Linked DNA regions of Homo sapiens. The protein of the gene in region 1 purifies or fractionates together with the protein of each later gene. This does not show direct contact. Each region holds a gene or a part of one and is shown on either strand. Other genes may lie near its edges.

Evidence for each region.
Region 2: the proteins of CACFD1 (region 1) and MARCHF5 purify together in Homo sapiens (affinity purification with mass spectrometry; one large-scale study listed by BioGRID and IntAct). This does not show direct contact.
Region 3: the proteins of CACFD1 (region 1) and ORC4 purify together in Homo sapiens (affinity purification with mass spectrometry; one large-scale study listed by BioGRID and IntAct). This does not show direct contact.
Region 4: the proteins of CACFD1 (region 1) and CZIB purify together in Homo sapiens (affinity purification with mass spectrometry; one large-scale study listed by BioGRID and IntAct). This does not show direct contact.
Region 5: the proteins of CACFD1 (region 1) and SEC63 purify together in Homo sapiens (affinity purification with mass spectrometry; one large-scale study listed by BioGRID and IntAct). This does not show direct contact.

Annotation. Positions count from the first base shown.
Region 1 is NC_000009.12:133,461,794-133,467,918, forward strand, and holds part of CACFD1 (calcium channel flower homolog), read left to right. Parts: exon of another isoform or gene 1-389; coding exon of another isoform or gene 390-426; intron 427-1,689; coding exon 1,690-1,762; intron 1,763-3,528; coding exon 3,529-3,654; intron 3,655-4,443; exon of another isoform or gene 4,444-6,125. UniProt on the Homo sapiens protein: Transmembrane protein which mediates synaptic endocytosis and fitness-based cell culling.
Region 2 is NC_000010.11:92,307,093-92,313,217, forward strand, and holds part of MARCHF5 (E3 ubiquitin-protein ligase MARCHF5), read left to right. Parts: intron 1-4,042; coding exon 4,043-4,245; intron 4,246-6,125. UniProt on the Homo sapiens protein: Mitochondrial E3 ubiquitin-protein ligase that plays a crucial role in the control of mitochondrial morphology by acting as a positive regulator of mitochondrial fission and as an important regulator of immune response.
Region 3 is NC_000002.12:148,009,037-148,015,161, reverse strand, and holds part of ORC4 (origin recognition complex subunit 4), read left to right. Parts: intron 1-6,125. UniProt on the Homo sapiens protein: Component of the origin recognition complex (ORC) that binds origins of replication. DNA-binding is ATP-dependent. The specific DNA sequences that define origins of replication have not been identified yet.
Region 4 is NC_000001.11:53,216,579-53,222,134, reverse strand, and holds the start of CZIB (CXXC motif containing zinc binding protein), read left to right. Parts: upstream 1-1,500; 5' UTR 1,501-1,559; coding exon 1,560-1,565; exon of another isoform or gene 1,566-1,775; intron 1,776-1,790; coding exon 1,791-1,874; exon of another isoform or gene 1,875-2,334; intron 2,335-3,211; coding exon 3,212-3,268; intron 3,269-3,639; coding exon 3,640-3,721; intron 3,722-3,931; coding exon 3,932-3,963; intron 3,964-5,275; coding exon 5,276-5,353; intron 5,354-5,556.
Region 5 is NC_000006.12:107,900,084-107,906,208, reverse strand, and holds part of SEC63 (translocation protein SEC63 homolog), read left to right. Parts: intron 1-1,487; coding exon 1,488-1,580; intron 1,581-3,210; coding exon 3,211-3,365; intron 3,366-4,691; coding exon 4,692-4,839; intron 4,840-6,125. UniProt on the Homo sapiens protein: Mediates cotranslational and post-translational transport of certain precursor polypeptides across endoplasmic reticulum (ER). Proposed to play an auxiliary role in recognition of precursors with short and apolar signal peptides.

The DNA.
Region 1 (6,125 bases):
CATCAAAATGCTGTATTACAGGGTAGAATGCAAAAATGCAGGGTGTTTTAGAGATGCGGCAGGAGTTCAGACAAGGGTTGTGTGCCGGGCTGGTCCTTGGGTAAGGTTTTCCTCCTCCAGGGTGAGGGGATCAGAGAGAGTACCTGGAGAGGGTCTACCCTGGGTCCTAAGAGCATCTGGAGGTGATACCTTGGGAGGGGACAGGATTGCATGGTGACAGCCCCCTCACGTGGAAGATATCAGCATTGAGGCCCCCAAGTGGACATCCTCCAGCCCTTTATTGCTAAAGGATTCCTGGCTGGAGCCTGCTGGTCTGGCTTGACACCTGGTCCTCCCCCAAGGCTGGCTGTGGGTTGGACAGCTGGGGTAGGGTTGGAGCTGGAGGCCAAATGCTGACTGCAGCAGGAAGCACAGCCGAGCTGTCAGGTGAGGCCAGGCACAGCAGAGAGGCAGGGAGCCGTGTCACCCTTTGGGCACTCTGCTAGGACAGGCAGGCCCCTGTGTACCTGTGGTTCTGGAACACCTTGCTGTCTGAAGGCAGATGTCTAAGGCTGTGCTGAGGAGCAGTGCAACGCTTGAGTCCTTTGTTTTAGAAGGAGACCCTGGGGGCCCATGAAGCAGTCCCATTGCAGTTCGGCTCACTTTATCTGGCTTCTTTGCCTGCTGTCTGCATAAGGTTACCTGGGAAAATGGAAAACAGCAGAATTCCAGACCCAGGTGGAGGGATCAGGTGCAGAGGAGCTGCTGCAAGTTTAATGAGCTGGGTGCTAATTGCTGCCTCCAAGGCCCCCCTCAGTGATGGCCTGGGCTTGCTCCCTGCCCAGCAGCCACCTCCTTGGACCTGCCTTGAAGGCTCCTGGAGTTCCTGGTGAAGCCAGGCTGCAGGCTGTGGGTGGAGGAGGGAGTTGGGTGCAAGAGACCCTGCTGGTGAGGTGCAGCTGGGAGGCGGGGCGTCAAGGCTGCACATCTGAGCATCAGAGAAGCCACGTTCTGGGGTGGAAAACGATGCCCCCTCCCCTTCCTGGCCTTATGGCATTTCAGCGGTGGGTGGCTGGGCTGTGGGACTTGCTCATGTGCAAGAGGAGAAACGGGTCTAGGAAGATGAAGATAGCGTGCCAGTGGCACAGGGCTGGTGAGGAAGTTAGAGCTGGAACTGCTGCTCAGTCTTACCTGGTTCCCATCTCTGTTCTGAGAGAGGCACCCCTTGTCCCAACCAAAATCCAAGCCACATTTTCTGAGTCAGAGGACTTCTTGTGTGGCCGGCCCTGTGAATGGTGGCAAGTGACCCTTACCGAAGGCTGAGTCTTGGGGGAGCACTGGCCTGAATCCTTGAGGGACATTCACTCTTTAATCCTTCTTTAATCCTAACCTCCCTTTGAGGTGGATATTGATGTAGCTGGGGTCAGAGGGCCAGCTCCTCTGAGCCCTGAAACGGGGAGAGGATGCTGTGAGATCCACCTGCCACCTTGCTGCCACCTTGCTGTGGGGCCTGGGGCAAGCAAGGCACTGCACCTCTCTGCGTCTCCTCACCTGTCTCAGACGATAGAGGGCAGGCTTCTGGGTGCTGTGAGAACTGTGTGCTGAGCATCCGCAGAGACTCTCGTCCTTTCCAGTCATCTCCCAAGGCCGCCTTCCCAGCGGGCTCCGCCTGCCTCCCTGCTGACTCCTGCCCGTGTCTCTTGTTTCAAGCTTGCGCGATCTCTGGCCTCTTCAACTGCATCACCATCCACCCTCTGAACATTGCGGCCGGCGTGTGGATGATGTGAGTAATGCATGGCCGTCCCACCCCGGGGGTCTTGCTGGTCGGGAATCTGCTGGGCACCTCCCGGGACAGAGGAGTGGCAGGGGCCGTGGGAGTGGGCATCCTTGTGGTTGCCATGGCTACTGGCTCCAGCCTGGGTGCCTCGGGCATGTGAGTTTCTGGCCACAGCATGCGGCTTCTTCCCCTTCATACCCCCACCATGTTTAGTTTCCTAATGAGAGGTCAAGGCCCAGGGAATGCCCACCCCGGCCTTCATCCGGTGCAGGGGCAAGGCCATCAGTGCTCCAGACATTTCTGGAGCATCCACTGAGACTGCAGATGCCAAGTCCACTATACTGGGGCCCTCGCCCTCTGGGAGCTCCCAGGACTGGGGTGGGGAAGGCTGTTCATTGGGGCTGGCTGAGGACTGGGTTGAATGGTCTGCTGGGAGAGGGCACTCGAGCTCGGAGCTGTGCCAAAGATAGATGGGAGAGGCGGGTCGGAGTTGTCACGGGAACCCGTGGTCAGAACACCCTCATGTGCGTTCCATGCCCACCTCCTGCCAGGGTTTCGCCATCCCATCGGAAGGGAAGGCGGGGTGAGGGCAGGCCCGTGTGGCTTGGGGCACGTGAGAAGTGGCGGTGCACCAGGAATTGATGAGTGTCCTCATGGGGCTTGGTGCCTTGAGGGGTACAGAGCTAGACGAGATTCAGGTCCCGTCCCCAGTGACCTATGGCCAGTGGAGAGCCTCGGGGGCCTGCTGTGGTGGGGTCCTCAGTGCTTGTGCTGGCCAGTGGTGGATAGGGAAGGGGGATGGACAGAGAGGCGCCCAGCCCAGCTTCAGGGGGTGGAGTCGGAGCCTGGCCGAGTTTGAAGTGGAAGGGCTGGCCCAGCACAGAGTGAGCCCGTGCTTGGAGGCCTGGTGTGTGGGAGGCTCGGGGCGGGTGCAGTGGTTAAGAGTTGTGAAGAGAGTGCCTGCCCCGGGCTTGGGGTGGCTCTTAGGTGTCCTGAGCCTGCATTTCTGTTACACAGGCATAATGATGGCACTTTTCTCCCAGGCCTGGGGACAGAAGGGCCTGGCTCAGTGTCTGCTAACTGATTGTTATCCATGCATAGAGAATACCAAGACCACAGCAGACACCTTCCGTCACCAGTGGCTTAGCTGTTCCCACCCCAAACATAGGGCTGGATGCAAGGACTTGCTAAAGTTCTTCCTCCCCAGCGTGGGCTTCCCCTGGGTGTCCCCGGGCCTGGGGCCGGTGGCATCAGGTGTGTGGGCAGCTCTCCGTGACTGTTTTGGGACTGCGTGGCTCCAGCTCTCTGCCTCCCTGGTGGGGCAGCCTTCCTGGTGCTGGTGCCACTGACGGCTTTTGGTGGCCATGGCGATAATACTAACAGCAGACAGAGGACACAGCTGCCAGTGCTCCATCTGTGGATGAACCTGCCGCAGCGTTGTAGCAGTGCCATGATGTGGGGTCCCCTTTCCTCCATGTCACACAGGAGGAGGATAAAGGGAAGCAGAAGCCCAGGGGCTTCCCTCTAGGAGTGTTCAGTTCAGCTGGGGAGATGGGTGTGCAGGAGCAGCTGGGGAGTGCTGGAGTCTTCAGCAGAGGCTCTCCGAGGGGTACGAGCAGGTGCCCTGGAGCAGCCGGGCGGCTTCCCAGAGGAGGAGGGATGAGGGCAGGAGGGTGAGGGAGGTGGCATTCCTTATGGCACTGGCACTGGGGGCCGCCCTCATCCTCCTGGGATTGTCAGTCGCTGCTCTTCTCCTGCCCTGGTCCCTGCAGCATGAATGCCTTCATCTTGTTGCTGTGTGAGGCGCCCTTCTGCTGCCAGTTCATCGAGTTTGCAAACACAGTGGCGGAGAAGGTGGACCGGCTGCGCTCCTGGCAGAAGGCTGTCTTCTACTGCGGGTGAGGGGTTGCTGGGCAGGGTCCCGTGACACAGTTCCCCAAAACCCCACTGACAAAATAGGACCCAAAAGTCAGGTGAGGGTGGGCAGTGTATTCAGTTCCTCTCTGTGGAAGTGTAAACTGGGATTGCCTTTGTGCACAGTGATTTGCTCATAGCTGCCAAAACGTGCCCCAGTGGTTCTGCGCCCAGGAACTCAGCTGTCGCTGTGCCGTAGTCACTGGAAGGTTCAGAGGTATATGAGCATGTGTGGCAGCATCCGTGCAGTGGAGAGAAAGTGGGAAGCGTCTGGAATTTTGGTCCGTCCACTGGGAGTTGTTAACCAGATGATAGTAGGTCTGTAGGACATGTTTCTCTGCAGCCTTTCCGAAGAGTGGGTTCATCTAGATGTCCTGACGTGAAGGGGGAGAAGCAGGTTGCAGAGCAGAAAATGTGGTTGCCCTCTAAATACACTTGTTAAAAATTTTCCCATTTCTAACAATGAAATCAATATGTAATACTTCTCCTCTCAGTCATAAGAAGGAACTAATTTCAGGATAAGCTTAATACACGGAAACTCCTAGAATAATGCCTCTAGTGCATAGGAGGCTGGTGGCAGCTGTATTCATTATTGTCTAGGTTATCTTTAGAAAGAAGTCTAGATGCAAGCTTGCTTCCCCTTCAGAGAGGCCCGGTAGTTTTGATGGTAAGAGCACAAGCCACATGCTTAGTTCTGGAGCCATCTTGTGCCATATCTAAATCACGAAGAACACAGGATCACAAAGCTCTTATCTACACGCAGTGTCATGTCCTTAGGGGTTCAAAAAACTGTATTTTAAAAATGCTAGACATCATAGAAATTCATTCACAATAATTTGGAATATAGAACAATGTTACTCGAAGCCCGCTGCCTGCTAATCTTCTGATGTGTGTGCTTCCTGTCTGCAGGCATTTTTTAAAAGCCTGCTTTTAACACAGTTATAACCATTATGAATAAGTTTGTATCCTGCCTTTTTTCACTTAGAGTAATGATATAAGCATTTGAACATCACCACAGACTTTATAACATTCTTTCAATACAGGAATATTCATTCAGCTGGATGTATCATGCTGTTCTTAATTTCTTAACTGGTGTAAATCGAGGTGTGATAAACATGTGTCTGCTAAAACTTTTTCTGTGTTTATGATGATTTCCTTAATATCTATTTTCAGGTGTGGAATTACTGGGTCAAAGATTCTGATCATTAAAAATATTTTAAGATGCGTGGCTACGTTGCTTTCCAAAGAGGTCCCTTGAGTCTCTCCCCCGCCCCCACCCCAGCCCAGGGCTGCACACCACTTCACATTCGCATTTATCTATTTGTTATCTAAGAGGGAAAAATATTTTCCCACGTGTTTCCATTGCATTTTCTGATATGAAAATTTTCGAGTTTACTTTTTAACCTGTGGGAACCTCAGTGTTCTGCTTAGCAAGTTCAGTGTGTTTTCTGTATTAAAGATTTCATGATCCTTGGTTGTATTTCCTGCAACTATTTTTCCAGGCTCTTGTTTGCCTTTAATTTTGTTTTTGTCAGAAGGTTCCCCGCCGTGGTCTTTTTCTTTGTAATTTCTATTATTATTTTATCATTTTGAAATTTTTTAACGACAGAAAAATCTCACAACCACATGTCTACAAGAATGGAAACTGAGGTAGAATGCAATTGGCCACGAGTCTTGTCCTCCTGCACAGGCAGCCTCCTCTAGGGAGGCGACAGGACAGAGCGCTGGCCTCCAGGCTGCAGGTATCCTCCTGGCCCAGTTAGCCCAGGAATTGCTGCTGGCCTGGAAATTCCAGCCAGGATGGAGAATCAGCCCCGGGGACGCTTAAGCCCCAGTGGACCCTGCCACCAGGTGACGCCAAACTGCAGCAAGGTCTGGGCCGACCCCGCAGACCCCGCAGCCTGCAGCCCTCCCATGATGAGACCCTGTGTTCCATGTGGTTGAATTCCAGGGACCTTACTTGTGGCGATGTGGCTGGTGTTACTCTATAACTCAGAGCATTTATTTAGTGCCTGTGGTGGTCAGCATTGTGTAGGTAACATGACTGACCTCGGACAAGCTTTGATCCCCTCTCCGCGGTGGAGATTCCGAGTAACTTGCCCGCGAAGCTAGTAGGTCCTGGATGGGAAGCCAGATTCTCTGTCACAGGCTCTTTCTGGCCAGTTTTTCTCACAGTGAGGGCACTGGACCATCTCGTTACTGTTTAGCTCTTTTTGGGATCACAGACCCCTTCAAAAATCTGATGAAAGCTTTGGATCCTATTCCCAGAATGGAACAGTTTTACAGACAAGTTCAGGGCTGATGAAGGACTTTCTGAAGCTGTGTCTCAGTTGATTTTTGGGGATCCTTCCTGTGCCCTGGGTGTCTAGGAAGGATGCTGGGCCGAGTCTGGGAAGCGGGGAAGGATGTGGTGGCTGTGGGGCCGGAGTGCCCCCTTGACCTCTGCTTTCCCCCC
Region 2 (6,125 bases), on another chromosome or scaffold:
TCACCTGAGCCCAGGATTTCAGTTGGAGTCTAGCCTGGACAACAGAGCCAGACCCATCTCATAAAATAAGGAAAGAAAACATCTGTGTGTGTGTGTGTGTGTGTGTGTGTGTGTGTGTGTGCGCGTGCATGCACGCACGTGCCCTCCCCTCCTTTTTTTTAGCCCTTAAGACTAGTCACACTCTTATATGCTGATATCGGCCTAAAGACATTTGTGTGACCATTTTTACATGCTTTAATTTCCCCTTTGCCCAGTCCTCATTTCATAGACTGCTATTCTTTCCATACTAGGTAGATTAAATTTAAACAACTAGTAAGATAGCAAATCAGTTAATAAATTCTTTAGAACTTAACATATTTGGCCAGGCACAGTGGCTCACGCCCAAAACTTTGGGAATCCAAGGCAGGAGAATTGCTTGAGCCCAGGAGTTTGAGACTGGTCTAGGCAACATAAGGAGATCCTGTCTCTAAAAAAAAAATTTTTTTTTAATTAGCTGTGTGTGGCCAGGCGCAGTGGGTCATGCCTGTAATCCCAGCATTTGGGAGCCTGAGGTGGGCAGATCACTTGAGGTAAGGAGTTCAAGACCAGCCTAGCCAGCATGGTGAAACCCTATCTCTACTAAAAATACAAAAACTAGCTGGGCATGGTGGCGGGCACCCTGTAATCCTACTACTTGGGAGGCGGAGGCATGAGAATCGCTTGAACCGGGAGGCGGAGGTTGCAGTGAGCCGAGACCACCACTGCACTCCAGCCTGGGCAACAGAGCAAGACTTTGGGCTGCTGGTTGCCCATTTTTATGGTTATTTCTTGATGATATGCTAAACAAGGAGAGGATTATTTATGCTTCCCCCCTTTTTTTTTTTTTTGAGATGGAGTCTCACTCTGTCACCCAGGCTGGAGTGCAGTGGCACGATCTCAGCTTACTGCAAGCTCTGCCTCCTGGGTTCACACCATTCTCCTGCCTCAGCCTCCCGAGTAGCTGGGACTACAGGCACCTGCCACCACGCCTGGCTAATTTTTTTGTATTTTTAGTAGAGACGGAGTTTCACCATATTAGCCAGGATGGTCTCGATCTCCTGACCTCATAATCCGCCCTCCTCAGCCTCCCAAAGTGCTGGGATTATAGGCATGAGCCACCGCGCCCAGCCTATGCTTCCCCTTTCTAGATCATATAGGGTAACTTCGTGACGTTGCCGTGGCATTTGTAAACTGTCATGGTGCTGGTGGGAGTGTAGCAGTGAGGACGACCAGGGGTCACTCGTGAGCATCTTGGTTATGGTGGGTTTTAGCTGGCTTTACTGCAACCTGTTTTATCAGCAGTATCTTTATGACCTGTATTTTGTGCTGACCTCATATATCATCTTGTGACTTAGAATGCCTTAACCATCTGGGAATGCAGCCCAGTAGGTTTCAGCCTCATTTTACCCAGCTCCTATTCAATCAAGACGGAGTTGCTCTGGTTCACATGCCTCTAATACTGCTATTTCAACTGAAAGCCTAACTCCTGATAAGTACGCACTCTGAATCATCATTCAGCTATCTTATTTACCATAGTTGTGAAATTAATTAGAAAAAAAACTGAAAGTGCATAAGTGCGTGCGTTGTTTGTTTTTTGTTTTTTTTTTTTTTTGAGACGGAGTCTTGCTCTGTTGCCCAGGCTGGAGTGCAGTGGCGCGATCTTGGCTCACTGCAAGCTCCGCCTCCCGGGTTCACGCCATTCTCCTGTCTCAGCCTCCTGAGTAGCTGGGACTGCAGACACCCGCCACCATGCCCAACTAATTTTTTTGTATTTTTAGTAGAGACAGGGTTTCACCGTGTTAGCCAGGATGGTCTCAATCTCCTGACCTTGTGATCCGCCCGCTTCAGCCTCCCAAAGTGCTGGGATTACAGGCTTAAGCCACGGCACCCGGCCAAGTGCATGCTTTAAATGTCAGTTCTAAAAAGTAAATCTGTACAAGTATTTAGGACTGAAATATACTGATGCCTGCAACTTTGAAATGCAGCAAAAAATAAGAATAATGAATGGATGTGTGAGAAAGCAAATATAGCAGAATAAGAATTATAGAATCTAAATGTTGGGTATATGGGTAGTCACTGAACAGTTTTTAACTTTTTTTGGAAAGTTTGAAATTTTTCATAATAAAATGTTTGGGAAAAATAAACCTTATCTAGAATTTATAAGGAATATAATAGCTACACAAGTATTCTCATTAGATCAAAATATGAAATTTGACCTATCTTTTCTGTAAGTCAGAAACAGATTAATGTAGACTATTTCAGTTGGTTCAACCTAGTCCTAACATTGTATTTTATTTTTCTGATGACTGAAATTGGATTAATTTAAAATGTGATTCACCATAATACTGATTAATTATGCTGATGTAGCTATTCTTATTTACGTTTGTGTTAAGAAAGTATGAGACTAAAGAGTCTCTAAATATTCTGCCAGTATTTTGTTGCTAAAATGATACATTCCATTTCCTAGATGTATACAAATATGTCCACAAAATTACCTCAGTTGTGGGGAAAAATATATACTAACAACATCTTAACCAGCCTGTGTGCTAGTATACTTACCAATTGAAATTTTATGCAAAAATCATAGGTTAGAACCCAGTCCTACTATGGGTAGTCTTGGTGGTTGCACAACAGTATGAATATACTTACTGCCACTGAATTATACACCTAAAAAATGGCTAAAATGGTAGATTTTATGCTATGTCTATTTGACGATAAAATTTTTTAAAAAAGAACAAAGTATTTTTGGACAACCATAAGACAATGTGAAGGCCCAGACAGCTTAGCTAAAGTGGGTCAAAAGGGTCAGAATGCTAAACAAATGCTACCTACGTTCTAATTTTACTTAGATCTTATGAAACCTGACTGAATTTGAAAGCTGAATAAAACAACTATTTTGGATATTGATGCCCTGGATTCAGTTCAACTTTTTTTCTGTTCTAATTGAAAAATTGTAATTGGAGCACACAATTGAAATTCATGTTGTTCCACAAGGACTGGAGAACCTCACCCATCTATAATACCTGAGTATATAGTCTTTCCCACTGAGCATAGTTAAGCTAGTTGTTCTGACAGAAGCCACTTATCCAATTAATTAAAAAGTGCACAGTAGGTAACATGCTTTAATTAGCAGTTGTTTCCACTTGTACAAGTTCTAATGGAGGGGAGGAGCGAAGGGTCTCATTGAATTGAACTGTATTTGCCCTGATGGAAATCGATGTCAAAACTTGTGTTAATTGGGAGAAAAACTGAGGAATTACAACCTAATTCCACAAGAAAAAATTACAATTCATGAAGTACCCTTAAAAGCAAAGTGGGAAAATGTTTTAAAATTACCGATCTCAATAGAATTTTATTTTTATTAATATAAGCACCCCAGACTTGATACTTCTAGATTTCAGATTTCAAGCATACACGCCCAAATTTATCATATTGCTATTCTAAAAAAAAAAATCTTGATATATTTATCTCCTTTGTGCTTTTTTGAAAATGTAATATTGTTTTCTCTCATGTTTATACTTTACCGGAAAGAAAAATGGGTTTTTTTTTCCTCAGCTGAAAAATGGAATGAGACTGTATGTGAAATCACTCGTGTAATACTTTGTTTTTCCAAGTTCAAGGGATTGGTGGTGGTGAACTGGGGAGAACACTGAATTTAATATATTACTGTGCTTACTATTCCTCAAAGAATTATTAGGTCTTATAACAAAAACAACTTGAGGTTTGTCTCCTTGCACTCTGGTTCATTAGAGAAGGTGAAGAATTACTGAAAAGATAGAGGAGATTACATAAAAACAAAGTTCAGAAAACATAAGTTCTGTAGAGGAAGACAAGGAAAAACAGAAAAAGTAGAAACTGCTCTAGTGGGAATGTATTGGTTGTTTTGTCTCCTTAGTCTTTTAATATAGGACAGAGATTCTGTAATATAACATAGCAGGCTCATCCCATTAAGTAAGAGCTGCAGTATAGAGGAGGCTGGAGTCCTAAAGATATAAATGTCATCCTTTTCTCTTTTAATTTACAGAAGTTGCTGGGTTTGTTTTGCTACTGATGAAGATGATAGAACAGCTGAATGGGTGAGACCATGCAGGTGCAGAGGATCTACAAAATGGGTTCACCAGGCCTGTCTACAACGCTGGGTGGATGAAAAGCAAAGAGGAAACAGTACAGCCAGAGTGGCATGTCCTCAGTGCAATGCTGAATACCTAATAGTTTTTCCAAAATTGGGTAAGAATATCTTTAAAAACAACACAGATATAGTTGATGTTATTATATATAACTTTATAAGTTCATTTTAAAATGAACCACCTCTTTTTTTTAGGGTGTGAATTTCTATATTCCCTTTCTCTTGTTTCCTCTCTGAATGTCAGACATTTATTTCTTTTGCTAACAGTTTACAGTATCCTTAATATATCCCCAAATTTATCCATTTGCCTGTGTATTAACTGTCTGTTTGATAGAAAGGAGAAAGAACTTGCATACCTGTGTGGATATAATTGAATAACAAAGCTCTAATAAAAAGCTGACTTTTAAAAAAAAAACTAACTTAGCTTAATTATCTGGAGACGGTGTAAGAGAAAGAAAGCAGTAGTATGTTCTAATACTTCTCCTTAATTCTTCCTTTTAAGGAATAAAAGTAGAGAAATTAAATATTTAATAAGATGTGACGTTAAACTCATCTTTGGAATCCAATTTATGTGGTTTCTTTCATGAACCCTGCTATCCCTTTTCTGTGAAGTGGCAGGTAAGAAATAACCAAAGATCTTTGAGAACAGGCCTAGCATGGAAAAAAAGTATAGCAGACTGCTTACAAGAAGCATTCTAAGGCTGCTTCTTTAGCAGCAGTATAACTAAGGCTGATATTTAGTGAGCCTGTTCCATTACAGCCATACAGTTATAAATTGGTGTCAATCTCTTGGTTTGGTGTTTATACCATGCCAGTTGTTAAACATTTTTTTATAACCCTTGACTGTAACCAAGAGGTATAGGAAGGCAGCTTGGGTTCTGGGAAGGTCATAAGGAAAGAATGTCTTTGGGGGCAGAGGGAATTCAGGAAAAATTGGAAATAATTATTATATATATTGTTTTTTATAAGTGCTATTCATACTGAAATCAGACCAATGTTTTTGAAAATGTGGCAACATAAATGCAGATAATGAAGTGCTTTTCTAATATGAGAAGATTAATAATAAGGGCAAACAAAATGTCCTTGGTTCTCTGTTTTTCTCTAACATGCACAGGAAGAAATGATAGCTTCCTTTGAAGGGGAAGTAGTGTAGTAGAGAAAGTAGTGTTTTCAAACATTTGGAATTTGTGGACCATGTGATGGGTCTTCAGTGCATACCACTGATTTTAGATAAACACAAAAGAATAATTCAAAATGTTTTTATTGTAAGATCAAAGAAGTATTTTTAAATCAGTATCAGGAAAAGCAATGATTGTTCACATTATTGTACCACCACATGAATGGTGAAAGACTCACTAAAGTCCAAGTTAAGGTTTCATATTTAACTGATTTCTTTTCTTGCTCTTAGTTGTACTAAATTAGATAGCCCCACCTTTGAATTATAGAGTTGGGAAGAGCAACAATTAAATATTTCTATTAGATGTTTTAGATATTCAAATGGACACAAAAATTATTACAAGAATTCTCACTGAAAACTACATCAAGTTGACAAGTGTATGGCACTCGAAAGCAAAGTTGAGTATTTTAATTTTGGAGATGGCAATGTGTAGATCTGTCCTTTTGGTTGAATTCAGTTCTAGGAAATATGTTTTCAGGTTTAGTGCAGTAATTGAATATGGTTTTAAGTCTACCTAGTTGTTAGAAAAGAGTAAATCTTGGCTGGGCGTGGCGGCTCACGCCTGTAATCCCAGCACTTTGGGAGGCAGAGGCGGGCAGATCACGAGGTCAGGAGTTCGAGACCAACCCGGCCAATATGGTGAAACTATGTCTTTACTAAAAATACAAAAGTTAGCTGGACATGGTGGCGTGTGCCTGTAGTCCCAGCTACTCAGGAGGCTGAGGCAGAAGAGTTGCTTGAACCCAGGAGGCAAAGGTTGCAGTGAGCCAAGATCGTGCCACTGCACACAAGCCTGGGCGACAG
Region 3 (6,125 bases), on another chromosome or scaffold:
TTCACTCTAATCTTTTTGTGTGGAATTCTTTTCTTCTTTTTTTTTTTTCTCCTAGTCAAGTGTGGTTGTGGGGGTAGAGGAAATGTTCAATCATCGTGTGGCATTCTTTATCTTGCCCTGTATTCATCGAGATTATTAGATCAATGCATCAGTATCTTTTTAAAGATATTGGTGATATTCTTACTGTTTCTGGTTACCTGCTGAAAATTACAATCTTGCTTTTATTGGCCTAGTATAGTTGCTCCTTAGTATCTGCTGGAAATTGGTTTCAGAACCCCGTGCAGATACCACAATCCACAGGCAGCTCAAATTCCTTATATAACATGCCATCATGTTTGCATACGGCCTACACACATCCTCCCACGTATTTTAAATAATCTCTAGATTGCTTATGGTACCTAATACAATGTAGATGCTATGTAAATATTGTTATACTGTCATGGCTTTTTAAAAATTTCTATTATTTTTTATAGTCGTGTTTTTAAAAATATACATGTATTTTTAATCCTTGGTTGAGTGAATCTGTGGCTATGAAGGGCCGACTATATTCATAGTTCATTTGTTGTTTGTTGAAGATAATTCCAGTTTCTAAATTTTCTAAGTCTGTGTCTGCTAGCTTATGATATTTTTTTCTTGTGTGCCTTGAGTACCAGTTGTATTTAAAAAATTATAGGAATATATGAGTCCTAGAATAATAGTATCTTTTTTAAGAAGGTACATTTTTCTAGGAAAGGTCTCTAGGAGTGCTTTCAGTCCCAAGTCACTATTCATGTTCAAGAGTTGGGATTCCTTCTGTTATACACATGACATTAAGGAAGACTTTAAGATCATGAATTCTATTTTCCTTCAATTTCCTCTTATCCTAATGATGTTGTCCTTAAACTCTGAACATAAATTGGGTAGTTTATCTGAGTCCCCAGCTTTGTTAGGCAATGTGCTTTTATTTTTATTTTTGATTTTGATTTTTTGTGTTTATTTTTATTTTAAATGAGGTCTCGCTGTATTGCACACAATCATCCTGAATTCCTGGGCTCAAGCTATCCTCCTGCCTTGGCCTGTCAAAGGATAGGATTACAGGCATGAGCCACCACACCTGGCCTTGTGCTTTGATTTTTTTACCATAGACCGGCACATCTTCCATTAGCTCAGCCTTTTTTCTCAGCCTTTTCTTCTAGACAGGAAAATGTCCTCAGAACAAAAGTTACTTGGTGTATGGTTTGTTTCTGGTTTACCTTCACATGGAATTTGGTAAGTAATTTCACATTACTTTATTTCATTCATTATTTAGTTTTTTTGTTGGCGTCAGCAGAAAGGTTGGTCCTGTCTGCCACTACCATAAATAAAACCCTAATTGTCTTTCTTTTTTACTTCTGAGATTTGATTTTAATATATTTATGCTTTGAGCCAAAATTTTTTTAACTTAACTCATATATTTAAAAATTTTAATTTTTAATTACTATGGATACATAAAATGGGGAGTATGTGATATTTGATATAAGCATACAATGTGTAATGATCAAATCAGGTAATTGGGATATCCATTACCTCAAGTATTTGTCATTTCTTTGTGTTAGGGACATTTCATTTCCACTCATTTAATTGTTCTAAAACATACACTAAATTATTGTTAGCTGTAATTACTATATTGTGCTACTGAACACTATATTTTATTCCTTCTATCTAACTATATTTTTCTACCCATTAACCATCTCCTCTTGATTCTCCTCTCAACACTACCCTTCCCAGCCTCTGCTAACATCTTTTTACTCACTATCTCTATGACTTCAATTTTTTTGAAGCTTCCACATATGGGTGAGAACATGTGATACTTGTCTTTCTATGCCTGGCTTATTTCCCTTATAATGTCAGTCACATCCATATTGTTGAAAATGACAGGATTTCATTTTTTTTTTATGGCTGAATAACATTCCATTGTGTATATGTACCACATTTCTTTATCCATCCATTGATTGACAGTTAGGTTGATTCCATATCCTGGCTATTGTGTATAGTGCTGCAGTTAACATGGGAGTACAGATACCTTTTATATACTGATTTCCTTTCTCTTGGGTATATACACAGTAGTGGGATTGCTGGATTATAGTTCTATTTGTTGTGTTTTTAGGAAGCTCCATACTGTTCTCTGTTGTGACTGTGCCAGTTTACATTTCCACCAACAGTGTACAAGGGTTCCCCTTTCTCCACATTCTCACCAGCATCTGATATTGACTGCCTTTTCGATAAAAGCCATTTTAACTGGAGTGAGTTGATACCTCATTATAGTTTTGATTTGTATTTCTCTGATTATTAATAATGTGGAACATTTTTTTCATATGCCTGTTTGCCATTTGTATGTCTTTTTGAGAAATGTCTCCTCAGATCTTTTGCCCATTTTAAAATCAGATTTTTTTTTCCTATTGAGTCGTTTGAGATTCTTATATATTCTGGTTATTAATCCTTTGTCAGATATTAGTTTGAAATATTTTCTCCCATTCTACATGTTATATCTTCATTTTATTGTTTTCATTGCTGTGCAGAAGCTTTTTGGCTTGGAGAGATCTCATTTGTTGTTATTTTATTTTATTTTCTTGCTTTAGTTGCTTGTGTTTTTGAGGTCTTATTTAAGAAGTCTTTGCCTAGACCAATGTCCTGGAGTTTTTGCCTAATGGTTTCCTTGATTAGTTTCATAGATGTAAGTCTTTAATGCATTTTTCTTTGATTTTTGTATATGGCAAGAGTTGGGGTCTACTTTTGTTGTTCTGAATGTGGGCATCCAGTTTTCCCAACACCATTTATTGAAGAGACTGTCCTTTCCCAATGAGTGTTTTTGGCACCTTAGTAAAAAACTAATTGGCTTTAAATACACAGATTAATTTCTGGACTCTCTGTTCTGTTGTTCTACATGTCTGTTTTTATGCCACTATCGTGCTATTTTGGTTACTATAGCGTTGTAGTATATTTTGAGGTTTGGTAGTGTGGTAAGTCTACCAGTTACCAGCTCTGTTCTTTTTGGTCAGGATTGTTTTGGCTATTTGGGGTCTTTTGTGCTTCCATACAATTTTAGGATTTTTTTTTTCTATTTCTGTGAAGAATGTCATTGCTCTTGATAGGGATGGCTTTGAATCTGTAGATTGCTGTGGGAAGTATTGTCATTTTAACAATACAATTTTTTTCAACCCATGAGCATGGGATGTCTTTTCATTTGTTTGTGTCCTCTTCAATTAATTTCATCAATGTTTGATAGTTTGCATTGTAGTTGGTTAAGTTTATTTCTAGATATTTAATATTATTTGTAGCTATTGTAAATGGGATCACCTTCTTGATTTCTTTTTCAGATAGGTTGTCACTGTTGGCATAGAGAAATTCTATGGATTTTTGTGTGTTGATTTTGTATTCTGCAATGTTACTGAATTTATTAGTTCTAATAGTCGTTTGTTGGAGTCTTTAGGTTAGTATAAGATCACATGAGCTGCAAACAATGATAATTTTACTTACTCCTTTCCAATTTAAATGCCCTTTATTTCATTCTCTTGTCTGTTTACTCTGGCTAGGACTTCTGTTACTAACTTGAGTAATAGTGGTGAAAGTGCCCATCCTTCTTCTAGATCCTAGAATAAAGGCTTTCAGTTTTTCCCCCATTCAGTCTGATACTAACTGTGGGTTTGTTGTGTATGGCTTTATCATGTTGAGGGATGATCCTTCTGTCCCCAGTTTGCTGAGAGTTTTTATGAAGGGATATTGAATTTTATCAAAAAAGATTTTTTTGGCATCTATTGAAATGACAATACACTTTGTGTCCTTCATTCTGTTGATACCATGTATCACACTGATTGATTTACATATGTTGAACCATCCTTACATCCCTGGGATGAATCCCACTTGATTATGATGATCTTTTTAATGTGCTGTTGAATTTGGTTTGCTGTGTTTTGTTGAAGATTTTTATATCTATTTTCATCAGAGATACTGGCCTGTAGTTTCTTTTTTGTTGTTGTTGTATCGTTGTCTGGTTTTGGTATCAGAATAAATCTGGGGCCAGGCATGGTAGCTCACGCCAGTAATCCCAGAACTTTGGGAGGCTGAGGCAGGCAGATCTCTTGAAGCCAGGAGTTTGAGACCAGCCTGGCCGACATGGTGAAACCCCATCTCTACAAAAAATACAAAAATTAGCTGGGCATGGTGGCTTATGCCTGTAATCCCAGCTAATCTGGAGGCTGAGGCAGGAGAATCGCTTGAACCCAGTAGGTGGAGGTTGCAGATCACCTGGGCAACAGAGTGAGACTCTGTCTCAAAAAAAAAAAAAAAAAAAAAAAGAATAAATCTGGCCTCATAAAATGAATTTGGAGATCCTCCTTGATTTTGGAGAATGATTTGAGTAGGATTGATGTTAGTTCTTCTTTAAATGTTTGGTAGAACTCAGTGAAGCCATGAAGTCCTGGCCTTTTCTGTGATGGGGGACTTTTTATTATTGTTTCTATCTTGAAACTTATTATGGGTCTATTTCGATTTTGGTTTTCTTAATGTTTCATTCTTCTTAGGCTGTATGTGCCTAGGAATTTATTCGTTTCTTCTAGGTTTTACAATTTATTGGCATGCAGTTGTTCAAATGGTCTCCAATGATCCTTTGAATTTTTGTGATATCAATTGTAATGTCTCCTTTTTTGTCTCTGATTTTATTTGGATCTTCTTTTTTTTCTTTTCTTAGTCTGGGTAAAGGTTCATTGATTTTGTCTGTCTTTCCAAACAACCCTTTTCATTTCATTGATCTTTTCTATTTTTTTGTCTCAATTTTATTTCTGTTTTTTATTATTTATTTTCTTGTTTTCTTTATTATTTCTCTTCTTAATTTGGGGCTTGGCATGCTCTTGCTTTTCTAGTTCTTTAAGATGCATTACTAGGTTGTTTATTTCTTGGTTTTCTACTTTTTGATTTGCACATTTATTGCTATAAACATTCCCTTTAGTGTTAGCTTTAACTGTATCTCATAAGTTTTAGTAGGTTGTGTTTCCATTTTCATTTGTTTCAAGACATTTTTTAATTTCCTTAATTACTTCATTGGTTGTTCAGGCACGTATTGTTTAATTCTTATATGTTTGTATAGTTTCCAAAGTTCCACTTGTTATTTATTTCTACTTTTATTCCATTGTGGTTAGAAAATATACTTTTTATCAGACTTGTTTTGCGGCCTAACATGATGGTGCTCTTTTTGGATTTCTGTTTGCATGCAATGTCTCTTTCCATCTTTTGGTCTATCTATGTTTTTATAAATGAAGTGGGTTTCTTATATGTAGCAGGTAGTAGGGCCTTGTTTTGTTTAGCCCTTCAGCTCTTCTGTGTCTTTTGATTGGAGAATTTAGGATCCATCCTTGAGAAATGTTCCATGTGCTAAGGAGAAGAATGTATTCTGCGGCTGTTGGATGACAGCTTCTGTAAATGTCTATTAGGTCCATTTAATCTATAGTGCAGATTAAATTCATTGTTTCTTTCTGTCTAGATGATCTGTCCAATGGTGAAAGTGGGCTGTTGAAGTCCCAAGTCATTACTGTATTGGGTTCTGTCTCCTTAACTCTAATACACTTGACTCTATATATCTAGATGCTTCTGTGTTGGATAGATATGTATTTATAATTTTTATGTCCTCTTGCTGAATTAAAACCTTTTGTATTATATGATAACCTTTTTTTCTTTCTTCATAGTTTTTATGTTGAAATCTATTTTATCTAAAAATAGATACAAAGCTACTTGGGCTCTTTTTGGGTTTCTGTTTGGTGCAGTATCTTTTTCCGTCTTTTTGTTGTTAGTCTATGTTTTTATAGTGAAGAATTTAGTCCATTCACATTCAGTATTATTATTGATAGGTAAGGACTTACTACTGCCTTTTTATTGTTGTTCTGGTTATTTTCTAGGGCTTTTCCCCCATTTTTTTCCTTGTTTTCCTTTGTGATAATTATTTTTTGGTAGTATGTTTTAATTTCTTGCTTTTTATTTTTTTGTGCACCTATTAGAGGTTTTTGTTTTGTGGTTACTATGAGGTTAGCAAATAACAATTTATAGCCAATTATTTGCAACTGATGACAACTCTGATTGCAAAGAAAAGAAAAAATACACGCACAGAAAAAACTAAA
Region 4 (5,556 bases), on another chromosome or scaffold:
CTTTCGAATTTATTTAGGACCCTGAAGCACTTTAGCCAGTGGTGGTGGGGCTCGCCAGAACCTGACCACTGGGATGGATGATTCCCCTCTGGCTAGGGTTTCTCTAAGTGCTTCCTCTGTGGGCACTAGCTGAATTCTGCCCTGAGTTGCTTTCCACTGTGACAGGGCAAAACTCAGTTCCAATGCAAAGTCCCATAAGCACACAGATTCTCTCTCTATGCCAGGCAGCCAGGTGCTGCCAGAGGATGAGGGAGGGGTGGTGGTAGCAATTCAAGACTGTCTTTCCTACCCTCTTCATTGCCTTGTTCCTTTTTTTTTCTTCTTTTATGAGATAGAGTCTCACTCTGTCACCCAGGCTAGAGTGCAATGGCATGATCTCAGCTCACTACAACCTCCACCTCCCGGGTTCAAACAATTCTCCTGCCTTAGCCTCCGGAGTAGCTGGGACTACAGGTGTGCACTGCCATACTCGGCTGATTTTTGTATTTTTAGTAGAGACAGGGTTTCACTATGTTGGCCAGCTAGGTCTCAAACTCCTGACCTCAGGTGGTCTGCCCGCCTCAGCCTCCCAAAGCACTGGGATTACAGGTGTGAGCCACCGCACCCAGCCATTGCCTTATATCTTGATGTGACGTTACAACCAGCTACTGTGATTGCTACCTGAGTTTTGGTTCTCATGAAGGTGCTTTCTTGTGTGGATAGTTGTTCAGTTTGGTGTTCCTGCCAGGGAAGAGGAGGAGGAGGATCACTGGAGGGTTCTATTTGGCTATCTTGCCCCACCTCCTAGAAGAGTCTTGAATGTGCTGTTCCTTTTACCGTTAATCTCCACAGCTCCTGCATGGTCTCAGATGTAGCCTGGACAGGAGGCCAGGTAAAATAAAGTTCAATAAACGTTATGAGAGAAGGATAAGCCAGGTGGGCTCCCAAAAAAGAGCCAGCTGAAGGGGAATGTCCAGTCGCAAGGACCACAGTGAGAAGGATGTGGACACAGGGCAAACTCTGGAGAAGGGCCTAGAAACCAGGTCTCTTGGGTGAAACAGGAAAGGGCAGTTTGAAGAAAGGCATCATCCCCAAATCTGATAAACCAATACATTCTACTTTTTAAAGCGTATTGGTTTATCTTTATTTGGCAGTCTTGGAACTCTTCCTTTTGTAGCTTTTCCCCTGGGCAGAGGGAGCTGACGTGATCTGAGAAGTTCCAGGGCAGGCAGAGTAGTGAAGAGCCTGGAAAGAACTGAGGGTCAGGAACTGTCCTGTTCGCTTAAAGCAGGCACAAAATTGGCGTTCAGTAACTGTCTGTGGCACCACCGAATCCTGGAGTCAGGCTTCCGCTGGCCTGAGCACAGGTTGCTCGCGGACCTGGCTGACCTCCACTGGCCCCAGATCCCCAGATGCGAAAAGCCCAGTGGGCCAGGCGAGCAGCGGCGCGCAGAAGTCCCTGCCCCGCGGCCCGGCCCCGGCCCCGCCCTACTGAGGGTGCGCAGACGGCACCCGCCTTTTACGACGCGCCGGAAAGCAACGGCAAGGGCCGCAGCCAGCACCGGGCGGAGAGGGCTACCATGGGGGTGAGGGGAGGCCGCCCGCCGCGGGGACACGGAGGGGAGGTGGCGAGGGTCTGGGAGGCAACAGCTCGCGCCAGGAGGAGATGAAGCGAGTGGGTGCGCGCTGAAGGAGCAGGAGGCAGAAGGAGTGTCTCCCTGTGGCACCCACGGCTGGGAATGCGGGAGGGTCGGGCAGGCGTGGGGCTGCGCAGGCACGGCTGACGCAGTCGCTCTGGCCCTCCCCCTCAGAAAATCGCGCTGCAACTCAAAGCCACGCTGGAGAACATCACCAACCTCCGGCCCGTGGGCGAGGACTTCCGGTGGTACCTGAAGGTGCGGCCGGGGCGGGGCCCGGGGAGAGGAGGCCCGTCCTGATCTCAGTGCTGAACCGGAGCCTTCTCTCCGGCAGTATGAGAAAATATTTAACCAGGCACATTAAGTGTTCGGGGTTTTCCTAGTTAGAATTTTACGTTTGCTTTCTATTAAAGTGTATTGGTTTATCTCTAATTGGCAGTCTTGGAAAGCTTCATTTTGTAGTTCTTCCCTGTGTTAAATATTTCGTGGTCTGTAAATGGACACTAAACGAAATGCTACTTGAAGGGACGCTTGTGATTATTTAATAAGGTGAATAGTTCGCCTTTCGTTTATTGATTTGGTTTTCTTTATTGTGAAATAGTTTAATTTTGTGCGTAATCCACCCTTCCTTAGCCCTCCCACACTGGTAAAGCTGGTACCCTAGTGGCATGGTCTACAGAGGCCTCCCCTTCCCCAGCAGTTCGAGGCTCTTCACTCTTCCAGATCCCAGAGCTTCTGCTCTGTTTTACTCCTGGTCAAAAATCCCAGCATCCTTCTGTACCTCTCAAAAGCCCTGTTTTTCGGGAAGCTGCCTCCGGACTACTTTTGTTTCCCAGGATTTTGAAGCCTGAATACCAGGGCTTACTTGGGAGAATCTGTTCTTTGGCTTGAAGAAGCGGAATCGAGTGAAGGAGACAGAAAAATAGAGTAACAATAGAGTGATAAGTGCTTATACCAGTGACATACAGGGCCTGTGGGAACATAAAGCTAACCAAGCAGAGTGGGTCGGGGGCCTGCTGAGGCCATTTCTCTTTTTTTTTCTTAATTGACACAGAATTGTACATATTTATGGGGTATATAGTGATGTTCCGATAAATGTAATGTATTGTGATCAGATCAAGGTAGTTAGCATATTCACCTCAAACGTGTATCATTTCTTTGTGTTGGGAGCATTTAATATCCTAGCTATTTGAAACTATATATTATTGTCAGCTATAGTCATCCTACAGTGCTATAGAACACTAGAACTTATTCCTCCCATATAGCTGTAATTTTGTATCTTCTAACAAATCTCTCCATATTCCCCCCCCTCACCTCCGCTGAAACCATTTCTGCACCACAGGTGCCTTGAATCCCCGGCCACACTGAGCACTTCATAGAGGAGGGTGGGCACGCCGGCATAGGAAACAGCCTTACCTATCCTTTGCCCAGAGATAGTTCTAGTTTTGTCCTTGTTGGGGCAGGTGTTAGGGATGAAGTGAGATTGCCATCAAGAAGGTAGATCATGAGCCTGCCCACCTCCCACTGTTCTTACCCTTTCCTTGGTGTCTGTGCAGCAGAGCCAGCTGCTTTACTAACATTCTTTTTCCCCAAAGATGAAATGTGGCAACTGTGGTGAGATTTCGGACAAGTGGCAGTACATCCGGCTGATGGTAACTGTTCCCCGCCCAACCCCCAACATAAACACTCACAAACACACATACACTTCTGGGCAGGGATTTGGGGAAACTGGCCTTCATCTCTCCAGTTCTTTGCTCCCTGCTTTTTGTGGTTTGGGAGGGTAGGTGTCAGTGTGATCAGCACTGGATTCAATAGGCATCTTTGAGGTATGAGGCAGAGTTCAAAATCAAGGGGAAGCCCTTTTTTTATTTTCCTCAGGAAGCCTTCCCAGGAGTCTTGTCCTAGTAAGTTACCCTTTCTGGGTCTTGGTCTCTTTAAGTGGACAATAAATGGTGGGCTCGATCTCCTCAGGACTGTACATCTAATTCATATGTGACTGAAAGTTCTGTTTGCTTTTTGCCAGGACAGTGTGGCACTGAAGGGGGGCCGTGGCAGTGCTTCCATGGTCCAGAAGTGCAAGCTGTGTGCAAGAGAAAATTCCATCGGTAGGTCAGGCTGTGCGTACTGAGTTCTGCCAGGGTGGCCCACAGCTTCCTGGCACCAGGCTGAAAGTAGACTCATGTTACCTGAGGGTGGAGTCAGGCCTAAGATGCCGACACCTGTACAGCGTGATCTTTTTCAGGGCCACATGTGGGCACCTGGCTGGGGCGAGGGTATGGACTCAAGTCAACTTTGTGTTCTCTTTTCTATTTCAGAGATTTTAAGCAGCACCATCAAGCCTTACAATGTAAGTTTGCTGCTGTAGTGGCAGGGATGGTGGGCTTAAATCCTAACTGGAGTTAGTAGGTCTGGGTTCTAGAGTCATGCCTGCATCAGAGTGACCTGCCATAGGACATTCACTCATGAACTTAGTTCTTCTTTGACTCAGTCATTTATCCACTGTACACTGAGTGCTTGGTATATTGCCTCTTGCAGTGCCTTCTTATGAGGGCTGGGCTGTGAGAGCTCAGGGGACCTCTGACACAACCTAGCTGTTCAGTTTGCATCACTGAGAGCACTTGCCTTGTCTTCATTTTAGGGGACTAGCAAGCTTTCTCTGAAACCATGGGTGGGGTAGTCGTTTGGTGCATCCCATCCTTTATATCATCAGTGTTAACAAGTTAGCCCAAAGGTGAGGGAGGGTGTGCTTTGGATCTGTTTGTTTAAAGAAAGCCAGTTATATGTATTCACCTATTCCTTATTTGGTATTTATTTAAAGTATCTTGAGTTGTGCCAAATTCTTGGCTTTGTCCTGAAGTTAAAGAGAAATTAAATGAGGACTCGCCTTCACGTACATAATAATCTAGTGGAAAATACAAAAAACAAGAATCGAACTAGGGCCCTAACAGAGAAGTGCCTTACCAGTGCCAGAGATGTGGTCAGTGTGCAGGAAATTACTTTACAGTGAATGACAGGATGAGACTGAATGTAGGGCATGGCACTTGTGGTCCCTAAGCCCATAGGTCAGGTAGGCATGAATTTCCTGGCCACCTGCCCCCCAAGAGGTGCCCCCTCCACATACATAACCATTTCAAAGGCTATAAGACAGCCCTCTGCCCTTACTGCATGGCAGATGGTCAGCAAAAGGCTATGGTTAAGTGTACTGGGTCTGTTTGGATGATCTAGAGACTTTGGAGCTTAACATTCTTGTTCATATTTTTGGTGTTGATAATTTTATTTACTATTTATTGAGCACTGTGCTGGGCACTTTATATGCATTTCAAAATCTGACAGTAAAATTGTAGAGGTTTCCTCGGCTCTATTTGACAGTTTAGGAATCTTGGGCCCAGAGGGGAAGATAGGCAGAGCTTACCTTACATCCAGGCAGGTTGACCCCAGCATCCACGCTCTTCTGCAGCCTCCATGTCTGCTGTCTACAGAAAGCTTCATAGGGAGCAGGTGCCCAAGGCAGGCTTCCTCTAAGAAGGGGATGAGTTCTTCCTGGGTCTCATACTAGGCCTCCAGGGGCAGTAAGTGCCCATTTGGCAGGAAGGAGAGGGGCCATGGGGTCATCCTGAGAGCTCATTTGGGCCTGCCTCCTCAACACACTTCCTTTCTAGGCTGAAGACAATGAGAACTTCAAGACAATAGTGGAGTTTGAGTGCCGGGGCCTTGAACCAGTTGATTTCCAGCCGCAGGTGTGTGTGTATCTTTCTGGGGAATCTTTGTCTTTGGGGAGGGGATGTATGAAGTGACAGCCAGAACTGTGCTACCTACAGATACCATGGACTAGACATTCTCCTTTCTAGCGGTAGTAATAATTGTCCCTTAAGTGGCTGCTGTATGCTTGGGCACCCATGCCATCATTTTTACATGTTACCACATTTAATTCTTATGGTAA
Region 5 (6,125 bases), on another chromosome or scaffold:
GGCAGAGCAAGTGTCTTCACATGGCCAGAGCAGGAGGAAGAGAGAGATGGGGGAGATGCCACACGTTTTTAAACAACCAGGTCTTGTGAGAAGTGTATCTCGAGAACAGCACCAAAGGGAGAACTCCACCCCCCTGATCCAATCACCTTCCACCAGGCCCCACCTCCAGCATTGGGGATTACCATTCAACATGAGATTTGGGTGGGGACACAGACCCAAACCATAGCATGGTGGTGCGGTGTGTTTTGTTGCTGTTCTTTTTTGGCCAAATAATTGCTCAAGGACTTTTTAAAAAAGAAATGTATATGCTACATAATTACTTCACAAATGGTTTGAAGATCTAAGTAAGTCAGACGTTTTGGCAAGTGTTAAAATTTAGTGTTTCAAGGTGAGAGAATGCTCTGTATAAGAAATGTTTAGTTAATTGCAGATCATACAAAAGTTCCTAATAATTTTTTTAAAGGACTTTGTAAGTTTTTGGAGGGAGCAAAATGGATTTCACAACAACCAACACCTCTCACCTCCCCATCTACAAGCTTCCTCCGACAGTGGTTACCAATAATGTCTGTTTTATAGTTATTTAAAGCTTCATAAGTACTTGAAGCCATGTATTCTGCTTAAAAGAAAAGTAGTTGATGGAGGCAACAGTGTTTCCAGGGATGTCATTAATTATCTCTTTTTCACCGACATTATTTCAGTTAAAGTTTTAAAAGACAGTTACTACCTCTAGGAAATAAATGTTCTTTTTGAATGATATCCTACCATCCCCCACCTCCTTTAAGGCAGTAATGCAGTTAAATGCTTCCGAAAACAAGGCCATGTGACGCTTAGTAATTGGTGATAGGACAGGATGCTTATGGTGGAATGAAGGAGCACTATTTAGGCAATATCATTGGAGTTGCTTTGAAATACTCAATTAACTAGTAATTCTGTTGCTAATGTTCTGTACAGATACATAAGCATCTCCATTTTTACTTACCTGTAAGAAGCAGGAAACAAATCATTGTTGAGTACCAAATCCATAGGTTAATGTGGTCTTAATAGTTAACTATTATATGCAGTATAAATGAAAGAGTCTTTCTCTTTCTGTAAGTTGCCCTCTTCTTCTCTTCTACGTCTCTTATCTCTCCCCCTGTATTTAGCTGACATATTTATTTTGACATATTTAGTTGATCTGCCTGCCTCAGCCTCCCAAAGTGCTGGGATTATAGGCGTGAGCCACCATGCCCAGCTGGGAGTTGGTTTATTAAGCCTAACATTATGATATTAAAAATTTGTCTTTGAAACGTCTAATCTGAGCTAGGGTTTTATGGCTGATTTTTGACATAGTGATACTGAGGAGAAACTCTTCCATTCAATCTGTAAAATTCTGAGATCATGTGAAATATTTGTGGCATAACTTTAATATTAGTTTTGGGCCACAGTGATAAAGATGCTTTAACTGTAAAATTAAAATGATCTGTTTCAGGTTTTTTATTGTTTTGCAGATCAGCAATTCATGCTAAAAAAGTGTCCTGCCCTACTTCAAGAAATGGTTAATGTAATCTGCCAACTAATAGTAATGGCCCGGAACCGTGAAGGTGAGGAGGAAATATAGTTAATTATGTTATACTTTTTCTTGCAAGCATATGCAGATTGTACTTCATATTTTAGGATTTATGGGTACTCAGACTTCTGTCGGCCAGTTCAGTGAGCTTCTTCAATTTTACTCATGTCTTTTCATATTTCTTTCCTATATTTTCTATTATTTAAAGTCTATATCACAGCTCACTGGGTTTTTTTTGTTCTTTTTTTTTTTTGAGATGGAGTCTTGCTTTGTCGCCCAGGCTGGAGTGCAGTGACAAAATCTTGGCTCTCTGCAACCTCTGCCTCCTGGGTTCAAGCGATTCTCCTGCCTCAGCCTCCTGAGCAGCTGGGATTACAGGCGCGTACCACCACACCTGGCTAATTTTTGTATTTTTGGTAGAGACAGGGTTTTACCATGTTGGCCAGGATGGTCTCCATCTCCTGACCTCGTGATCCACCTGCCTCAGCCTCCCAAAGCCCTGGTCACTGTGTTTTTGATTTTAATTCTTGTTTTTTTTTTTTTTGGAGACAGAGTCTCACTCTGTCGCCTAGGCTGGAGTGCAGTGGCGCGATCTTGGCTCACTGCAACCTCCGCCTCCCAGGGTCAAGTGATTCTCCTGCCTCAGCCTCCTGAGTAGCTGGCATTACAGGCGCATGCCACCACGCCCGGCTAATTTTTGTATTTTTAGTAGAGACGGGGTTTCATCAGGTTGGTCAGGCTGGTCTCAAACTCCTGACCTTGTGATCCACCTGCCTCAGCCTCCCAAAGTGCTGTGATTACAGGCATGATAATTTAATTATTTTATTGTTCAATTGTTTGCAAAGATTTAAAATTTCTCTTTCTTTGAATAATTTTTGAGTTAGGTCATTTTTTCTAACAGTGAATTTGAAATCTTTAACTGATATAAAAGTGATTCATATGTCATGTAATTTTTATTAATTAATTATAGACAGCATCTACCAGGGCTGGAGTCCAGTAGGGTAATCATAGCTCACTGCAGCCTCAAACTCCTGGGCTCAAGCAGTCCTTCTACCTTAGCTCTCCGAGTAGCTGGAACTACAGGTGCATACCACAGCACGGAGCTAACTTTACATTTTGTGTAGAGGTGGGATCTCACTTTGTCGCCCAGACTGGTCTGGTTTCCAACTCCTGGCTTTAAGCAATCCTCCCACTTCAGCTTCCCAAAGCCCTGGGATTACAGTCATGAGCCACATGCCTACAGGCACCTAGCCATTTTTTTTTTTTTGGTATGGAAGGAAAAGAATGAGGGAATTTCTGGTCAGTAATGGAAAGGAATGCCCTTAAAAAAGGATAGTGGTTATGGTTTGTTGTTACGGGTGATGTTGGTTCTTGTCATGGTGTCATATGTTGGTGATACTGATAATGTCTGATAATTTACTATTATTTGAGGTGAGGCAAATAATTTTTCTTTTAAATCAATGGTTGTTGCTGGAAAATGTTCATTAGATCGAGTTTGTATATTTTTAGTGTCTTCTCTGGTAACTTTTAAAGGAAAATCTTACTATGATCCTCAAATTTGAGGTGTTATGGATTTAGTGTGAATTTTGTTTTTGTGATGAATTGTATACTCCTGAACATGTAAAAAGTCCAGCCCTGTTTCTTTTTTTCCTGTTCTTTCTAAGAAAGGGAGTTTCGTGCTCCAACTTTGGCATCCCTAGAAAACTGCATGAAGCTTTCTCAGATGGCCGTTCAGGGACTTCAGCAATTTAAGTCTCCCCTTCTGCAGCTCCCTCATATTGAAGAGGACAATCTTAGACGGGTTTCTAATCATAAGAAGGTAATTCTTTGCTACTTTAAAGTCAGTTTTCAGCAGTTTGTCCTGTCACTTAAAGGTAACATGAATAAAAGTTTTCTGGAAATGGTTACTATGCATTTTTTAGATTTAGAATGTCTTAAATACTCTAAAACTTTCTCTCAGGTGGTTCTGTTAACATTTTCTTGACTAGGTAGCTGTGTTTTATAGTATTTTACTACTGTAAGTAGTTTTATTATTTTGGGGGTTGTTGCATTTAAAAAGTCAACAGTTAGTTCCTTATATTATGTTACCAAAAATAAATGTACTGTCTACTTTACAGTCATTTTATTCTTGGCTTAAGGTTGGGCAATTGTTTACTGGTTAAGCATGAACAACAAAAACATTTAATAAATCAAATAAAGACAGTTCTTATTTAGAATATATAATCTATAGTATAAACATGATAATGAATCTTAAGATATAACAAAAATTTGTGTAAATGAAAAACTTGAGGAAATATAAGAAACTGAAGTTACAATTCTAGTAGGAGATTTTAAACATTATTTTGTATATGATAGATAAAACTAGCAGAGAATAGACATTGGATTTGATAGTATATTAATGTAGAATTAATAAATGCATGTTGGAAATTAGTATCAGAGTTCTCTGTCCTTTTAAGTACTCATGTTCCCCTTATAAATTTGATTGTATGTTAAGTCATAATTAAAAACTTCAGAATCTAAAAGCAGAGATTTTACATGCCTCATGATCTAATCTGTGTCTTTGAAAGTGAAAAATAACTAGCACCAAACACCTGGAAAATTAAAGAACACGCTCCTAAGTAACCATTTTGCCAAGATGGATATTACTGTAGTAATAGCTATATTTTAAGAATAACAAAAATGAGAATATTGCATAGTAAAACTTTGAAGGTGCGTCTTTATTGAGGTTTATTTTTACTTTTATTAGGTAAAAGTAAACGTTTATTATTAAAGGTTTGTTAATAGTAAACCTATTAATTGCTAATTAAAGGTTTTTGTTATTAAAATTGAAAATAAACTGAGGACATCAATTGACAAAGTTCTTGGTTGAGTCAAGATTCTTATTTTTTCCCTCCAACTTTGTTTTTTCTAATTTAAAAAAATAAGCCTGTATTAACTTTATAATTTAAAAATTCTTAATTTAAATTTTCTTGGAGAAAAAGGTCATGAAATGCCATATCGTTATTTTGTACTTTGAAATGCACATTAATCAACACTTTTCTAAAAGTTGCTGGATTTTGTTGTGGTTAACATGTGAGTAATTTTCTTTTTATGAAAAGCTTTGTGAGTTAGGGAATTATGTATTTTCTTTTTTTTTTTTATTCAGTATAAAATTAAAACTATCCAGGATTTGGTGAGTTTAAAAGAATCAGATCGTCACACTCTACTGCACTTCCTTGAAGATGAAAAATATGAAGAGGTTATGGCTGTCCTTGGGAGTTTTCCATATGTGACCATGGATATAAAATCACAGGGTAAGTGGGAGGTTTCTCTGTTGAGCATTGCTTCCCTTTTGATAGATTGGTTCTCATTTATTTGACTCAGGATTCTCAAAACACTGTACTTAATAACATAACTTGTTATTAGACTTTGCAGAACTGTAGTTTACCTGTCAGATTTACTATGTTGGAAAATGATTTATACCTAATAGTTTGAGAACACTGATAGAGTCCTACTTTTATTATCCTCATAATGGGATGAAGTCTGAACACTCTGTTCTGTAGTTCAACTTTTAGCAATTTCTTAACTTTCCAAAGAATGATGAAGACTTCCAGGCATAATAAAAGAATGAGATATTTGAAGTATATTATTAGTATGAAAGAAATAGCTGCCTAGTTCTAAAATTAAATTTTTAAAACCCAACTTATTTATGTTAATTAAATGTTGAAAATTACTGTGTTTTATGCCACATTTCATGTGTTTTTCTTGCCCTACCTCTATATTTTCTTTGAGGGAAAAAAATAAAGGCTATTTTTCTACCTATATAATTGCTCTGTGTTTCTATTTCAATATCTGAATGGTCTTAGAATACTGAGAGAATTAGAGACTATCTGCTCCATTCTTTCATTGTGGTGGTGGTCTGAGCTTTAACATTTGCTAAGTTACTATTATGAGAACATTCTTTTAGTTACCAAGAATACAGGGATATATTAATAATGGTTTCTGTCTTTATTTTATTTATTTATAAATAATTTTTGAGACAGGGTCTCACTCTGTCGTCCAGGCTGGAGTGCAGTGGTGCGATTTTGGCTCACTGCGTCCTCTGCCTCCCGGGCTCAAGCAATCCTTCTACCTCAGCCTCCTGAGTAGCTGGGACTACAGGTGCACACTACCATACCTGGCTAATTTTATTTTTTGTAATTTTAGTAGAGACAGCGTTTCACCATGTTGCCCAGGCTGGTCACGAGCTTCTGGGCTCAACTGCTCCACCTGCCTTGGCCTCCCGCAGTGCTGTGATTATAGGTGTGAGCCACCGTGCCTGGTTTGTGTCTTTAAAGAGAGCTTATTGTCTAGTTGAAGCAATAGGCTTAAAAATAAGATAAGGGCTGGGCCCAGTGGTGTCATGCCTTTAATCCCAACACTTTGGGAGGCCAAGGCAGGGGGATCACTTGAACCCAGGAGTTCGAGACCAGCCTGGGCAACATAGTGAGACCCTGTCTTTATAAAATTAAAAAAAAAACACACACACACCAAGATAACATATGCTAAGTGTTAACGTGAATGACACAGACATTGTACCATTTATTTATACAGCAAATAT